Linked DNA regions of Homo sapiens: region 1 is linked to region 2. Evidence: fine-mapped expression QTL. A gene starts in region 2. The other region holds a variant in brackets. All regions are shown on one strand. Distances are from middle to middle.

Region 1 (8,633 bases), 76 kb before region 2:
ATTCTTAGCACCTTATCTCCACTTACTTAAATAATTAAAATGTGGTACCACCGAGAAGTTAATTATCATGGTGGTTAAGTGTAATTTTGTAGTGAGACAGATGGGGGTCCTAATCAACCATGCAACCAAGACCAAGTTATGTAGCTCTTACACAGCTCATGAGTGACAATGACTCTCATAAAGGTTGTTACACAGTTCAAATGAGAAAATATAACATGCTTCATAAAGCATAATAAGCAAAGTTAGCTGCTGCTGTTATCATTATTATAACATTTAACTACAAAAGCATTTAACTACATACTAACGGAAATTCAGCCTATGTTAAGTTGATCTTGATTTTAATACTTATTAATTGCATTCTTACATGAGTTGGAAAAAATAATTTTAGTCACCAAACCATGAATTTAAAACTAATAGGAAAATCTTCATGGCAAAGCTTACTAACAAAAAGTCTGTTGATTTTTTACCACCCTTTGGGCATATGTGGTTAGATATCTTCACGTTTAATATGCTTTGTGTATAGATCTTACTAATTCTTTAAACATTTGCAAATAATACACAGTGGTACAGGTTAAAAATAAAGTATCAAAAGTGTCAATTCCCAAAGAAATTTCACTAACATCTGTTCAAAGAGATATGGGATTAGCATCTAAGTGTCCTTGTGGGTCAATATAGATTATAAAGGTAGGATTGTGTGTGTGTGTGTGTGTGTGTGTGTGTGTATTTCAACTTTGGGTTAATTGTTTAATATGAATTAAATAGTACAACTTTCCAAACTCCTACTTTTACTAATGCAACTTAAGGTTTCTGTGTTATTAAAAGCATTTTATATAGCTACCATCTTCTTTGGCTATCATTTGGACATAAAGCTAGCTCCTGGCCATTTCAAACATAATAGTCAAAGAAGAAAATGCTCTATTCATTAAAACACAAACACACACTCATACCATTTGAGCATTTTTAAAATACTCTATGACACATTGATCGATAACATTGAAATAATTAGTCACAGTAAAAAGACAATATACCTAGCAGCCTCTGGAAGTCACAGGGGAGAGATGGTTGAGTAGAGATCCTAGAGTCAGAACAGATCTAAGTGTGAGTCTTCTGTCTGCAACTTACCAGCGATAGTACCTTATGCAACACAATTAACCTAAGACTTGATTTCTCAACTCTAGATTGAGGATAATAGTATCGCTGTGAGGATTGAAGGAGGAAATATGTGGAGAACATTTAGCACAACATTAGGCTTCAATCTATTTTTTTCAACAATGTCATCATCACCATCATCATTATCATCATCATTTGTCTTTCTGTTTATTGACAGGTCAAAAGGTATTTCCACTGAGTATTCGTTTGCAGGTCTATGGAGCACAATTCTGTCATCACTCCAAACCTAGGAGCACCCCAGGATTTAACCTGTCATACCTGAGGAATTTCTTGAGATACTGGCGGCTGCAGGAAGACCATGAAAACACTCCATTGTTTCCGGTCAGTGTGGGAGACATGATATTGCCTTCAGCCTTTCTGCAGGGATTCCCTTCTCCATCGTGAATCATACCAAAGCTGAAACAGAATGAAGAAAACAAAATCCTGCTTTGTGAACCCATTTTTTTGAAGGATAATCTGAGGAAGAATAAAGATGTATTGATCATCAACAAAACCAAGTGAGAGACAGAGTTATTAAAACTGGAAAAGAGAAAGGCAAATTACTATAGATTGTTATAAAATTCACACAGAAAACTTTAAAAATGCTGAGGGCTTTGTTATATTATTTCCTGACCACAGAATCAAAGAATGGTCTAGCTGCTACATGTTTTATGGGCTGGAAAATTTTGCTCAAGTTAAAATTTAGGTATAAGCTAAGCCAAAGTGATGGAACAGCCAAATTATTTAGTTTCAAACAGTAGAATTCTTATCTTGTCACCAACCACGGAACTATGGTAAAGAAGTTCAGAGTCAGTAGGAAGTAAGTACAGAGAGATGATGATTATAAGTTGTTTATGAACTGTTCATATATAAGGCTAGCATGGTATAAAAACTTCTCTCCAACTATGATCAATTTATTAGCTGAAATCACAAACTCTAATTGTAATTAAACTCTCTTATAATAAACATTTTTTTAACATGCTTGAACCCCTTTATTGAAGGCTATTAAATCTTGACCATTACTGTTATCTTTCAGATGTATTATATGAGAAAACTTTAATTTGTTTCATCACAGAAGGGTCTAGTAATTATAGAAGAAAAACTTTAGGTGGTCTACTGTCTAGAAATCATGCACATTATACCTGAAGAATTCTCAAATTTCCTGACAGGAAGAATAAATGTGACATTAATGTGCATACCCACATAGGATACATACCATAAAGACAAAGCTTACTTCAGGCGATGTTAAAGTGGTAGAAGATGGGGAAATAAGAGTCTTTGATCTTCTCTAAAAAATTCAGCACAGAGAAAAGTCTTTTCTGAAATTTTTTTTTTTTTTTTTTTTTTTAGGGATGCAGAGGACGGAAGGATATAAATATGAATTTCATCATTAATTTAAATTGTTCTTAATCTCATTATTTAAAAGAATAAAACTTGTGTCTTAGACCATATATTTATAAGGCAGATATGACTCCTATGTAAATAAATGTTATCCTGATATAATTTCATTTATAGAGTTCGCCTTTGAAAGTAGTCTATACCAAATAAATATGTTACGATAAAAGATATGACTTTTTTTGTGACCCATGTCTATAATATGGCCATTTTTCCAGCATTCCTTCCACTTTGTCAGGAAAATAGTAGCAGGGCAACTGTATGCTATCCTATCAGTGACTTCCTTAGGTATTCAGAGGTGACCACTCAAAAATAGGTATTGACTAACGTCAATGTATACTCAGTGAAAGCATTTTCTTATCCTCAGCTTTTCCCAATTTAATTCTTCTTCTCACCTAACCAAGACGTTAAGGGGATTTCTTTGGGAGACACCCTTTCTAAATATATTTGTGAAAGTAAAAAACAGAAAGAAACCTATAAATAAAGCACGAGAAGAAACAGCAAGAATCCCAGAAACAGAGATGGGGTAGGAGAGATTGAAGCCATTACGCTAGAGGAAAAGAACTTACTTAGAACTTCAGTGGAATTTTATGTGCGTAAGAAAATCAAGTCGGAATTTAATTTTGAACTTAACAATCTTAAATTTAATTTAATAGCATTTTAGAAGATGATAACATATTTTCTTTAGCACATGCCAAATGCCATATAAATATCTCAGGAATTGTCTGTTTCAGAACTTCTTAAGTCCATGTTATTTAGAACTTAGGTATGTATTTTATTTTACCATCTGTCCTTCCCCCAACCTCTGACTTCTCTCCTGAATCCTACCTGAAGAATATGTTCTGCTTTTCCTTATCTAAAATGTTGGATTTTGATTTTGGATAATTTTAACACATATGCAAAGATAATGAAATTTTTCAATGACCAGTATTTTGAAAAGTGACACCTGTTCGGTTGGACTTCATGCTGGTAAAACAAACTTAGACATACATTTGATATGCACACATATTTTGTTTCCTGCTTTGTATGAGAAGCATTGTTCTTAGTGAGCATTTTCGCTTCTCCATTTACAATTTTAAAAATTGGCTTATTCATATCTAGGAAAGTGTGCATGTGTGTCTAAATGTGTGTGTGTGTGTATAATAATGTTGGAAATTTGTTGGATAACAATAACAACAATGATCAAGGTTTAAATTTCCTAAAGATAATAAATGTAGCTCATAGAAGATACTGGCACTGTCCGGGCGTGGTGGCTCACACCTGTAATCTCAGCACTTTGGGAAACCGAGGTCGGCAGATCACCTGTAGTCAGCATGACCAACATGGTGAAACCTCATCTGTACTAAAACTATAAAAATTAGCCAGGCATGGTAGTGGGCACTGGTAATCCCAGCTACTCAGGAGGCAGAGGCAGGAGAATCACTTGAACCCGGGAGGCGGAGGTTGCAGCGAGCCGAGATCGTGCCACTGCACTCCAGCCGGGGCGACAGACGGAGACTCTGTCTCAAAAAAAGAAAAAAGATAGCAGCACCAACATATAAAAATACCAACTATGGTTACTGAATGATGTTTGCTTTTAAGTCAAAAATTAACTAGATGCTTTGAAAATATATGAGTTATTTCCTGTATGTTGAATAAAATATACACACAAGTACACACACACAAACATCCTAAACTGGTATATCTGAAGAGTACTACACATTGAAATAATTATTTTGTAAAGTATTATACTTGTTCCAATGCAGCTGCTATTGCTCTAATGTTTGAAAATTCTCTATAGCGTTGTCTCCATCATAAAAGGAAGATTTAGTGACACCAATCAAAAGAATATTAAGTACATGCAATGTTGCCAACTAAAAGAATATTCAGTACATGCAGCAAAAGTTTTTTTAAAAAGCAGCATGCCATTATACTTTGGGAATTAATTTTTCTCCATGATTACTTCCTGTGCATAAAGAATCAGCTAGAAGTGTCTTCATTGCTGCAAAACATGAACAAAAATAAACAAATGCCTAGCAGCCCAGAGACCCCATCTGTGCACACGAAGGAGTACTGTGTGGCTATTAAGTGCTGCTGTTTAAAGAGAATGAAATCAACAACAGCTAGCCTTTAGTGAGCC[C/G]TTTGTATAGTCAGAAACTATTCTAAGCTTTACACAAGACTGATCCTCTTTGTTCTGCCTAAGTCAACAACAACGGTTAGAGGAACACCAATGAATCACCCAACTAGTTTTCACATAAAGTAGTGGTTCAAAGAGGCACTTACTTGTGCCCTGACTCATGAGCGATGGTGAAGGCAAGGCCAAGTCCTGTGTCCTCATTGATGGTACAACTTCGGTACTTAGAGCACATTCCACTGATGGGGGCAAACCCTATTGAAAGAGCAGTTTCAAATGTGAATCCAAAGGTTGCACACACAGATACATGATGATGATTTATGTCCTCAAAATGTTCTACACAGTTTTAGTTTAATAGATCAATGCATTCAGTGTTTTTGGAAAAAAAAAAAAAAAAAGATCTATAGTTCTTTGTCCTGTGTAATGATAATGTATAAATGCAACATTTCCTATTTTCTTGCTTTTGTTACATATTGTTATCAATTGATCCTTGTAAGAGCCCTGTAAGGTCAGTATGAGTACTGTAATTCCCATTTTACATTTAGTTTAGTAAGTCACAGAATATTTATATGCCTTGTCTGAGTTTATCATTCAGGTCAGAGCAACGGATAGAATGATAGCAAAACCAATGCAAAATGCTCACTGAACAGTGGCATTAACGTCACAGCTCAGGGTGTATTTTCCAAGGAAAAACACATATCCTGGTCTTTTACTAGAGCAGAAAACATGAAAATGTCTAAGCAACATGTGCAGATTAAATTCATTTTTCTCTGGTTCTTTATAATGTGGTAAGTGCTTCTGTTCCCAAAGTTACTTCCCTCTAAGAGCCATTATAAAAGCATCCCGGCCAGCCCTTAAGTCTATCTTCAAATACAATACAGTGTGTGCGAACATCTTTCTTTCCAGTTTTGGGTCCTAATAATCAGTAGAACAAATCTATGTACCCATCTAATATTAAATGCATGCTTGTGAATGGATTGTACCCACTTCATTGTCAAGACGGAAGTGAGATCAGCTGGGAAATCTAATACAAAGGCACAAATAAGGGGTGGGATCATTATCATTACTACCATCGTCATCGTCACTAAATAAATGGTTGCAAATTCACACACTGTGCTATATGTCTATTATATATCTGTGTGTGTATGTATTTATAGCTTAGGAAACCAAAGCTCAGAGAGGTGAATTAACTTGTTCAAGATCTCAGAGTCATAAATTCTACACTCAGGAATCAACCACAGACATATGGGAAGTCAAAGCCCATGCCCTTTGCATTAGGACACACTGCTTAAAGTAAGTGACCTTTTCCACAGTTGATAGAATTTCTGGTGTTTTGTTTTTTCCAAGCCTTTTAGTACATTTTGGTCTCTGGATAACAGATAACACTGTCTGCTTCTCAGAATCTCTCTTGAAAACAATGCACTGGATTATCATATGTCACTTTGCACATTCCAAATTCAGAATATGAATGGATATATACCATCTTTCATTACAAAAACCCTTTCTATGGAACAATTCCCAAAATCATTGTGTTTTTGAAGACTGTGATTAATGGTTAATTGTTAAAATAAACTTATTTATAGGACATAACAGAGAAACTGCAGAGAATTTGAGAAACATAAAAAATAAAATTTCTGCCCTGGCACAGTGGCTCATGCCCGTAATCCCAGCACTCTGGGAGGCTGAGGTGGGTGGATCATTTGAGGTCAGGAGTTCGAGACCAGCCTGGCCAACATGGTGAAACCCGTCTCTACTAAAAATACAAAAATTAGCCAGGTGTGGTGGTGGGTGCCTGTAAACCCAGCTACTCTGGAGGCTGAGGCAGGAGAATCACTTGAACATGGGAGGCAGAGGTTGCAGTGAGCCGAAATCACGCCACTGCACTCCAGCCTGAGTGACAAGAACAAGACACCATCTCAAAAAAATAAAAAAAATTCATAAAGTTTTATTAAAACACATCTGCATTCATTTATTTACATATTACTTGTGGCTGCTTTTGAACAATACAGCTGAAATGACTAGCTGCCACAGAGACCTGTGGCCTGCATAGCTTAACATATTGACTGTCTGGCCCTTCACAGAGAAAGTTTGCTGACTCCTGATTTAGACAGCCATCCATCAACTTTTAAAAAATGTTGAATTCCTATTATGTGCAATGGAATATACTAGAATATAGTATAGATATAAAAGATGCAATTCTTGCTATCACTGTCTTGTACAAATATGGAAGAAATGAGTACTTCAAAGTCAAGTAACTTCTAAAAAAGGCACTGTTACCTAGTGGCACAGTTAGGTACCATGGAGCCCAGTAAAATCCTCTTCAGCTACCTGATTCTGTGGTCATGATGCTTACAGAATAACCTACAAGTTTCTAGTTAAATAATGTATCTCACACCTCAATGATCATCAGTAGGATCAATAAAGAAAAATACAAGCCAGGTGAGGTGGCTCATGCCTGTAGTCCCAGGACTTTGGGAGACCAAGGCGGGCGGAACACCTGAGGTCAGGAGTTCGAGACCAGCCTGGCCAACATGGTGGAAACCCGTCTCTACTAAAAATACAAAAATTAGCCAGGCATGGTGGCAGGTGCCTGTAATCCCAGCTACTTGGGAGGCTGAGGCAGAAGAATTGCTTGAACCCAGGAGGCGGAGGTTGTAGTGAACCGAGATTGTGCCATTACACTCCAGCCTGGGCAACAAGAGTGAAACTCCATCTCAAATTAAAAAAAATACAAAATGAATAAACTAAGTGGGCTCCCCACATTCTAAGTTCAGTTAAAAAGAACAATAGTCACCACAGGGTACATTAGGTTACTCCATAATTTAAATATTATGTCTGTTTATTAAGGAACATAAGGGCTATCCATCATCCATAGAAAGTTTCCATACTGTGTTTTCAGCTAACAGGTGTGTGTGAAGGATCTGTTCATACCATACCTAGAGTGTCACATGGTTCATTCTTCCAAGAACAAATATCAAATCCTGTTAGTAAGATGGCATGATCATGTCTCTTGCCATTCTTTCCAATGAGGGCAGACTGCCATTGACAAAAACTATTCAGAGACTGGTCTGCATGATGGTTGATCAATAATCCTCCCTATGGGAAACCCACACAAATCAAAGTGTGAATTTGTCACAGAGATGAGAATGCTGAATCATTCCATTTGTACAGGCAAACACAGAAACATATTTCTAGGGAAAAAGATCAGTAAACACTTGAGCTAAGGTAGGAGACAGGAAAATCTCTATTTTAGGTAAATGCTCACAATATTTAAAGCAACTACAAAGTTTCTGTAGTGTGATTTATGATTGATCATAGTTCTACAAAAAATAACCTAGCATCAGTTAGAACACCTTTGTTCATCTTACCTAGTACTACCTTTATAAAACCGTTACAACTTTTAAAACATGATAATAAATTAATGATGAAGTTCAATGGCTTTTCCATAAAGCCTCATCATTATTTCCATAGATGTCAAAATTCCCAGCAAAGCGTCTGGCACATCATAGATTACAATCAATCAATCAATATAATGAAAATTCACTGAATGAATAAACAAATGATGATATGATTCCAAAGGATAAGAGAGGACCTACCCTTAAAATAATCATTTGTCAAATGTTTGCTTGGTCAAAGCTGTTGACTTGGCCAAGTTGAAGGTTTTTAGACAAGATCTTTAATTATCAGTTAATTAGGATGTGGCTGGCTTCAAGGTCCTTGGGCAACCTATTAGTAGGCTAAAGACAAAAGTGTCTCCTAACCAGCACACGCCTTTTCTGTCTTTCTAAAATTCCAAAAACCATTTGACAAGCTGTTAACTTCTGTAGCTCTCCACACCTGGGCAATTAGATCAACTTTTGTCTTGTCTGTGTCTTCCTGCTTTTTATGTTTTTTACTGGCGTTACAGAAGAAGAGGAAAAGCCTCGGGGGACTTAAAAAATAGCCATTTGAATGGTAATCGCTATCTCAGAGAAAC
Region 2 (8,633 bases):
ATGCTAAGTAAAGAGAAGGAGATGTGCCACAACAAAACAAACAAACAAACAAACAAACAAAAAAACAAGATATAGTCATGTGTGCACACACAGGGGCATGTAACCATGTTATAATATATAGGTCAATGGTGAGCCATGTTCATCATTTTAAATAGACCAAAGAAAGAATACCGTGATTGTGGTTGTAATGAAAGGTTTTAGCTAAATTTCAGGCCATAATAGGGGGAAAAAATTAAAAAGTAACTGAAAGTTTCAACTAACAAAGAACATGGGAGTCCGCATTCACCCGTACCCAAGCCACCCCTCTTGCTTTGTGCCATGATGTACCATGTACATTACTCACTACATCCTCACTTGGGCTTTCTCACATTTTCCTTCTTCTGGCCATGCCAGAGCACAATCACCATGTGTCTCAACACACACAAACTCTTCTGTCAATTCAAGACACTTCTCAATCACAACACAGAATGAAATCAACCCAGAACAACATTTACCGCCTCGTATATTTGATTGAATCCTGAGAAGAGTATCATTTACACTGATATTCTTGGCCTGGTGCTCAGCAGATGAGGATTACATAGGGAGGAAATAACACTGGTCCCAAATGCTTTTAAAAGGTTCTGCTTCCCTGAATGCCACATTTAATCCTGCCAGCCCAGGAACACAGCACCCCACATTCTAAAAGGATGTCTTATGTGAGCAGGACACCAGCAACAGATTAGTTCAAAGAAGACAAAAGGCCTCCCTTCAGCAAAGTGAAGGTTGATCTTACCAGTGCTGCTGAATGCAATTTCGCATTGAAATACAGTTTTCCCATTTCAAAGCCATGTAGACGCATGAAGCTTGTTAGATTTATAGAATGCCTGGTCTCCCGGGACATTACAAAGCGAATGGCATCCATCAAGTTAATTTCCTTGGGGATCATCTCAAACATGGAGAATGAAAAGTCCCAGACCATTAAACATCAAAAGATTGTTCTAAATGGTAATTAAAGTTCTATTATATTTTCTTTTTCTGGGAGCACATTAGATTAATTCAATTGAGAATATTAGAAGTATCAAGGCTGACAGTGTGAATGTGTGGAGTTGGCTGGAAGAGCATTTATATTGCAGACATCTGTTCATTCAAGTTACACAAAACACGAAAGAGGGAGCTCAACTCAGACTGGGGTGTACTTACCAAGCCAGCACACGTAGACACAGCGACAGAGGAGGAGCTGTCATTTCTGATAAATCCCTGATAGAAGCATTGCTGCACCTCGGGTTTCTGAGTCTCTGAAGCACCATCTTTTCCAAGTACCTGGACAATAAAGTGACTGCTCAAAATCGCCGAGGGCTTAAGTTCTAAGTGCAGTTCCTGTCCAAATGCTGAAAATCGGTAGTGCAGGGAGCTTCTGGCATTCTGCGCCGATCGCTTTTTCCTGCCGTTGTGCAAAATGTCGTGTGAAATATATGACCCGGCTGAGTCTACTTCTACTGGCGTGACAAAGACGTAATCTGCAATGGGAAAAGTTCAGCTGTCAGCACCCAGAGCCCACAATTCCAAATGGTCTCTTTCCAGCAAGCTGGCAAAGAGCAACACAAAGCTCAAAGATATCTTTGTTCCTATTGCCTTGCACCTAGATCAAATATAATTCAGAGCAGCACAGGCAGCAGAAGACCTGTCTCTACAACTAACTCGGCCACAGTCATTTCTACAGGTGCCCGAAAGCCAAGCACAATTTTGATGAATTTCATGGATGTCTGTGGAAAAATGTAACACCTCTCATTGTCTGGAGAGAGATTTAGAACATTCTTTTGATGTTTAATGGTCTGGGCCTTTTATAATATTGGCCACAGAACCATTCATATATATAAAATTTAATTTTTTTGAAGATAAAGTTAATAAACATAAAACTACAAAATCGGGAAATTTCTTCAAGGAGGTTAATTTCTCTGTGCTTAAACTGAATCGGGAACATTTTGGCAGAGGCAGAGTTTACATTTCAAGTCCTAACTCACAGTGTGGGGTAGCCTCAGATGATATTTCAGATCATTAACAAGCAACAGCATTTTCATTTTTCCAATATTATTTATGTGTGATAAGAAAACTCCAGCACTTGTATCACCCTTAGCATTTTACTGTGAGCTTTCACAGGGATGATCCCATTTAATTGTAAGCATAAAATACAGTGCATGCACAAAAATGCCTCAAAATTGTCAGAACCCTCCTATATAGTCTGATGTATAAAATTGCTCAGGCATGTTGGTGGGGGAGTGTCAGATCAGGGGACACCTGGAAAGGCATGTTTAAAAATACCTTCACCACTGCTCCCTAGAGCAGTACTAATTGCTGAATGTTCCAAAGAGGAGGAGCTAAAATACAATTTGCTATTTGAAAAGCAAAGCCAGCACACTGTTTTCTTTCACCAAACATTGAAGCTGAAAAGCATCATCCCACAAAATGATTTGGAATATGCCCTCTGTGCATTAAAAAACAGCCTGCATTTCCACTTTCAAGGCACAGAATGGGAAACTACTTTGGAAAGTGTTTAGAAAGCTGTTGAATAATGACGAGGTATGTTTGAGTCACTTGGGTCCCCAGTTACTGGAGGAGGAAAAGGAAGAGAAATTTCTCTTTTCCCTAAACAGTCAACAACCTTCCCCCTCCTCCAATAAAAAAAAAAAAACTAAGGAATAGTGGAGCCCCTGTAGCTAGCAAAGATCAATGAGTGATGGCCTAATTAGGCTCACATTAAAAAAGAATTCTCCACAATAGACAATAATTTTCTTCTGTTTATGAACCATCTGTGACTTATTCCTTGGGCAGCTTTCATTTTTATATTCTTTATGTCCTCCCACTCCCATTTTTCTTCTTGACTCCCTCCTTTAACTAAAAATGCTGTATAATTGACATACATATTTTACAATAATGGGGGGAAAAGTTTTTCCCCTCTCTTAACCTTGAAAATCTGAGCCAGACATACAATATTTTTCTTCTCTTAAAAATCTGATACATTGCTTTAAAGGGATGTGGCTCTTGATTATGTGCAATTTCTTAGAGAAAGTCTACCTTCTCCTTCTGTCAAACTAAAACTTAACTATGAAAAAGATTCCTGACATATGCAGGAAGTCTGTGTCTCACCTTCTTGTCCCAAATCATCTGAAACTCTGCCTGCTCTTACTTGGAAGGCTCTGTAGGAACGTTATCCAGCCAGCCTTCTATGGAACCAGCCATCAAACGGCCCCAGACACCTGCTACCAGCTTGTTTCCAAGGGGAGAATAACAGGCTGTCGGTTACATTCGGTTCTTGATGGAAGAAGGGCAGTCAGTGTCCCCTGTAAAGAGTGATCTCTGATTGACCACTTCAGGAGGTGAGTAAGGGTGAGGTCCTTACAAGGTTGTGGCTGGGTCGGACGTGGCCTCCAGCCATCTGATCCTGATATAAGAATGAGGGGTGGTTTTAGAAACTGCAGCCTCTCTGTTTGGACAAAAGGTGAATCCCTTCTCCATGACTCCATCCTGCCCCACTCCCCATTCCCCTGACAAGAAAAGGAGATAACCTTGCAAAACTAAAAATTACAGAATTCTAAAGAATCCAGGTTGAGCTGTAAGGTTTTCCTAGACACCTTGCGTCAGGAATCAGCTGTTCTCCTGTAGCTGATGGGAAACAATCAAAACAAGGATTTCCCTCTGGGCTCCACTGGGAAGTTAATAAATGTCAGAAGTGAGGGATTTTCTGGAAGTTTGTGGCTGGCGAACGTCAGAAAAGATAGATAAAGGACTCAGAGACCTGAAGTCACCTGCTTTCCTCTCTCTAAAAGCAGCCTTAGACATCCGTAAAACAAGGGAAGCAGAAATGAAAAAAAAAGAAGAGATAGAAAAGGAACAGAAGTCGAGAGAAAAATGAGGAAAGATGGAGAGAGGAAAGAGGCTCACATTCTTTCATCTCCCACTAAGAATTAGCTTCCCCCAACAAGAGTTAGGAGAGGGAGGAAATAAGTAATTCCTTAGTTAATGTCCACTTCCCTTCGAATTTCTCACTGCAGTTAGGATTTTTTTTTTTTTCTTGTTCTTCTTAACAAGCCACCTGTGAAGGAGGGAGAGTATTTGCTTTTATGTGACTTGCAGCTCGGGGCGTTGATTCTTTTGATAAGTTCAGTCCTTGCCAACCTTCCCCCCTCTCCAAACAGGAACCATTTCCAAGACAGCGCACACCTGCCAGGTTAGGGGGTGCGCTTTTCCATCTTTTCTCTCTTTGGGGGAAGGAAGGGTCAAAGTGCTGCGAAAGGCCCTTCTTGGGGATGGGGGGCAAATACGAACCATCATTTAATCCGCTGGCGCCGCTGCTGCTGTCACTGGCTAAGGCCGCGGCGACCGACGCACAGCAGAGGCAGCACAGCTGGAGCGCCTGCAAGAGAAAAGGTGACATCGCGCGTGAGGGGCGCGGCGGGGCTGGCGTCGGGCGCCCCCTGCCACCCGCTCTCGGAGCTCCGCTCGGCGGCACCTGCCTTGGCCACGCGCCCCAGTCCCGCCAGGCCCCTCGGCGGGCCCGAACCCGCAGCCGGGAAGGCACACGCGAGCAGGAGGGCGCACTCCATGGTCAGGTGCGGACGCGGCGGCTGCGGGTGGCCAGACGCGGCAGGCGGAGCGCACGGGCGGCGCGCATTCTTTCCGCGGCCCCGGAGCTCGGCGCCCCAGGTGCGGCTCCAGGTGAGAGCCGCCGCCGTTCACATCGCAGCGGGGGCGCGCTGGGACCTCCCCTCCTCCGGCCGCCTGCGCGCCCTCCCTTCTCCCGGCGCGGGCCTGCCGAGCTGCAGTTTGCGGCACCCCAGAGGGTACGGGGGGCTCCCTGGGCCGGGACTGGAGCGCAAACGGTTGGGAGACTGTCGGTGTCTGCCCGCCCGTCTGTGCGTCTGTCTGTGTCGGTGTGAGCGTCTGAGGCGATGGGGAAGACAGCGCCAGCTGGCTCCCCCAGCGCGCCGGAGCCGAGCGCCCGCCTCTCCACCGCGCGGTGATTGGCGACCAGCGGCTCCCGGGCTCGTCCGAGCCCCCGGGCTGGTGCAAGGGCGTGGGATTCCCGGCTCCAGCTCTGAGGGAGGGGGCGAAGGGGGCGGGGAGGCTGGGTGGGAGTGATAGGGAGGGAGGGACCGACCGCCATGAGAAGGAGGGGAGCGCCCAGGGTCAGGCTTGGAAAACGTAATTTAAGCGCACTGGGAGATGAGTTCGGAAGACGAAAGGCTCAGGTGAGTGGCGCGACTTTTTCGCTGCCTGTGCAGACTTCTCATTTTCAACTCTTCTGGCAAAGAGTCAAGATAGCGTCCTCAACACCTCCTAAGTGCTGGGAGCTATCCCCTGCTGTATCGCATTTGCCTCAGGCCCTACCTTTTTCAGGTGGGAATTATTAATTCCTTGATAAAGATGAGGAAAAGGAGGCTCAGATGCGCACAAGCTGACCTAGCTTCCCAGAGTCAGCAAATCTGAGGCAGCCGGGAGGACCAGAACAATGAGCTGTCACTGTCTGCAGCATGTAAAAACTCATGGCACGCGGGGGCCTCCCTCTTCTCCCGGATCTCTCTCTCTCTTCTTGACGTGACCGTGCTTCCCACTCTTCGAGATTGAATCTTGGCCCCAGATACCCAAACCCACAGAAATCAGTTATAACAAACAGCGCACGCCATCACTAGGAATGTGCATCCAGTTTGCTGTGTGCCTGTTCGTTTACTCAAGACATTTATTTGATCCTTTGATCCCTGTTTGCAGAGGTGAACAAAATACAGTCTCACGGGCCAGTGGAAACGAATCTGATTGGATAGCTCGACAACGGTAATAGAAGCAAAATGAACACAAATACTAAAAAGGAAAAGAATAGTCTCCTAAATTAGATGGCAGCAGAATCTAATTTAGATGGGATAAGATGTGTGTGTGTGTGTGTGTGTGTGTGTGTGTGTGTGGGTGTATATATACACACACACATATATATACACACACACACGCATACATACACGTGCAAGGCATCTGTTAGGAGCTGACACTTAAAATAAGGCCAGAGAGAGTGGATCGGTTTTATAAGGGAAGAGGGGAGTAGGATCTTGCATGTTAGGACAGGGGGCACAGCATAAGTGAAGGTCTCAAGGTAGTTAAGTGATTGCCACGTGAAAAGTGTTACAGGCCAGAGGAAGAAGCAAACACAGCAGTTGCTGGGTCAGCTGGACCTTGTAAGCTGGGGCGAAGCATGTTGGAAACCATTAGATTTAAATGAATGTGGGTTTGTGTATGTGTAGGAGGCAACATCATATCCAATAATAAAAAAATGTGAACCATTTTTTGAGCGAGTGTAGGGATTGGACGAGCTGAGGCAGGGTCAGAGAGAAACAAACCACGCAGCTGTTGCTGGCATGAAGGGGTACAATGACAGTGTCTTGCTTGGACCAGGGTAGTGGTAGTGGAAGTAGATGTATTACTCTGCTCAGTCCTGTGGGTACTGAAGTAGTTAACATGAGGTCTATGTCAAGCCTCGATTAAGTGATAGCTCAATACACATAGTCGGTTTTATGGAATGCAGCTGGGAAGAGGTAAACCCAGGCTGTAGCGGCAGAGAAGGTGATGTGTCTGCCTAAGGAACATGAAGCTAAGCCTCACAGAACATCAGGGCTAAACAAATCATTTGGGTTTCCCTACTTAATCTGGTTAAGCTCTGTGGCCTCTGTTTTATAATCTGTAAAATAGGAATCAACATGCTACATCAAAAGGATAGCCTGAGGGGTAAGTGAATATATTTTTCAAAGCACATTATAAGTGGACTTTAAGAAGTGATGGTGTATTTCTGTTATTTCATACATCCTGTGTCAAACTTGAATATACGTCAAAATCACCTGTAATGCTAGCTTAAAAATGCAGATTTCCAGGCCATGAAGCACTGTGATTCTGATTCCATGGATTTGGTGTAGGGCCCAAGCATGCATTTGTAGTAAGCACTTGTGGGTGATTCAGACACAAGTGACTTAAGTGCTTCATATGATTCCATGAAGAACTGGACACAAGAGGAAACTGGACATCAAAGACATGCAGTAAAACACTGCTGGAGGTCACATCACCAAGCAACGGACTGAATAAAACAGGAGACTGGGATTGACAGCACTGTCAGCGACATCATCAGGTGAACACTGACGGAACCTGGAGGGTGAAGGGCTTGTCCACACTCAGCTAAAAATAACCATGGCCCTGATTTGTGTCTCTCCATTAAGATACATTTGCATGAAATTGTCCATATTTTTCTGATCCTCCTCTTTTAGGGCTAACAATATAGGTTACTTGCCATGGTCAGGGCTGAAGTCTCGGAGAACAACCCTTAACTATGCTCTATGCTCAATTGTGGAATTTCTCAATCTCAGCAGTACTGAGATTTGGGCTGGATAATCATTTGTGGTAGGGGCTATCATCCTGTACATTATAAACATAGGATGTTTAGCAGCATTTCTGGCCTCTACTTCACTAAATGCCAGTAGCAGCCCCCAAAATGCAACAAAATGTTGTGAGATTTCCAAATGTTTCCTGGTGGGTAAAATTCCCCTAGGTGAGAACCTGGATAAATAGTACAGATTCCCAGTCCTATTCTGTGACATTTTTTTGTTGAGTGCCCATTTTTTTTTGAGAGTCTAGAGGGCTCCTCTTGAACCTAATGTAAGTAGTTTATCCTTAACTGATTTTACAGCTCTTCTTCCATACCCCAGTCAATCTTTGCTCTCCACAGATTCAAGTCCTCCATGATTGGGCACAGAAACTGAGACTCATTTCTTGCATAGTTCTAGACCTGGAAGATAAAAACTTGCAGTTCCATTCATTTGTAGATGTCTAGTCTCTTTTTTAGGGCTGATAAATACTTGCAAAGCCATAACTTCTGGGATGATTTTATACGTAGTTTTCCAGGAACTGGCCCTGCAATATGTATAAATTGTCTCTAGATGGTGACAGAGAATCATGAGCCCATGCTCCAGTCTTGGAGTTATAAACTGCAAAGTAGCTTTTAAGTTACTTGGGAATGTCAGTCTTACCTGATTTTAAAATGATAAATCTAGGACACTACAATGGCTATCTGAAGTTTGCAATAAACTAATGGGGATATGGGGGGGCAGAGCTCATCGCTGATGTGTTGTATTCTGTCAGACGTAGCCCAGAATATGCCACGTAACAGACATTCATAAATGTTTGTAAGAGGAGCAGAGGGAGGGAGGGAGGGAGGGAGGAATGGGGGGAAATTTGAGATAGAGAGATCACAGTGTTTCACTCTTAACCACGAAAAATATTCCTCCTTTCTCTTCCTTTAAAATCAATGGTACAGTTCTAGGCATTGATTTTCTTTTTCTACTGACATAAGCTTTTTTATTTTTTTATTTTTATTTTTATTTTTATTTTTTTTGCCAAATAACATTAAGATACTTGCCTCCTCCTAGACAGATCAAAAAATAAATGGCAAACCACGTTGCTTACTCACTTTCCTTTGTCCCTGGATTCATGAAGATGCAAACATCCCTTCCATGGAAAGTAAGAAACACTTACTGCCTCTTCCGGTGCAGTTGACTTTCTGTGCTATGACTGACTAACTCCTTATTTGCTCCTCTCCTTTTCCGTCAGCGAGTAGAGGGAAACTCTTC

Direction of the effects. Alleles are on the strand shown, and positions count from the first base shown. SD is a standard deviation of normalised expression in the study named.
For the expression in prefrontal cortex of the gene that starts at base 4,919 in region 2, allele C in region 1 goes with a higher level than allele G (large effect, 1.1 SD a copy in CommonMind).

Evidence for each region. PIP is the estimated chance that this variant, and not a neighbour inherited with it, causes the effect. A credible set is the group of variants that fine-mapping cannot tell apart.
Region 1: its variant is the best candidate, but not a certain one, in a credible set for the expression of ADAMTS18 in prefrontal cortex (CommonMind, PIP 0.61).

What each region holds. Positions count from the first base shown.
Region 1 is chr16:77,354,512-77,363,144 of GRCh38, forward strand. It overlaps ADAMTS18 (ADAM metallopeptidase with thrombospondin type 1 motif 18), which reads right to left. Exons shown (of 23, transcript NM_199355.4): 7 at 7,594-7,753; 8 at 4,807-4,912; 9 at 1,429-1,566. Among named protein-coding and RNA genes, the nearest start is that of ADAMTS18, 76 kb to the right of the region's middle. The variant C/G (reference allele first, on the strand shown) is at 4,664.
Region 2 is chr16:77,430,116-77,438,748 of GRCh38, forward strand. ADAMTS18 (ADAM metallopeptidase with thrombospondin type 1 motif 18) reads right to left here and starts at 4,919. Exons shown (of 23, transcript NM_199355.4): 1 at 4,491-4,919; 2 at 4,303-4,390; 3 at 1,180-1,496. The coding sequence starts at 4,580. RefSeq lists an enhancer at 4,615-5,115.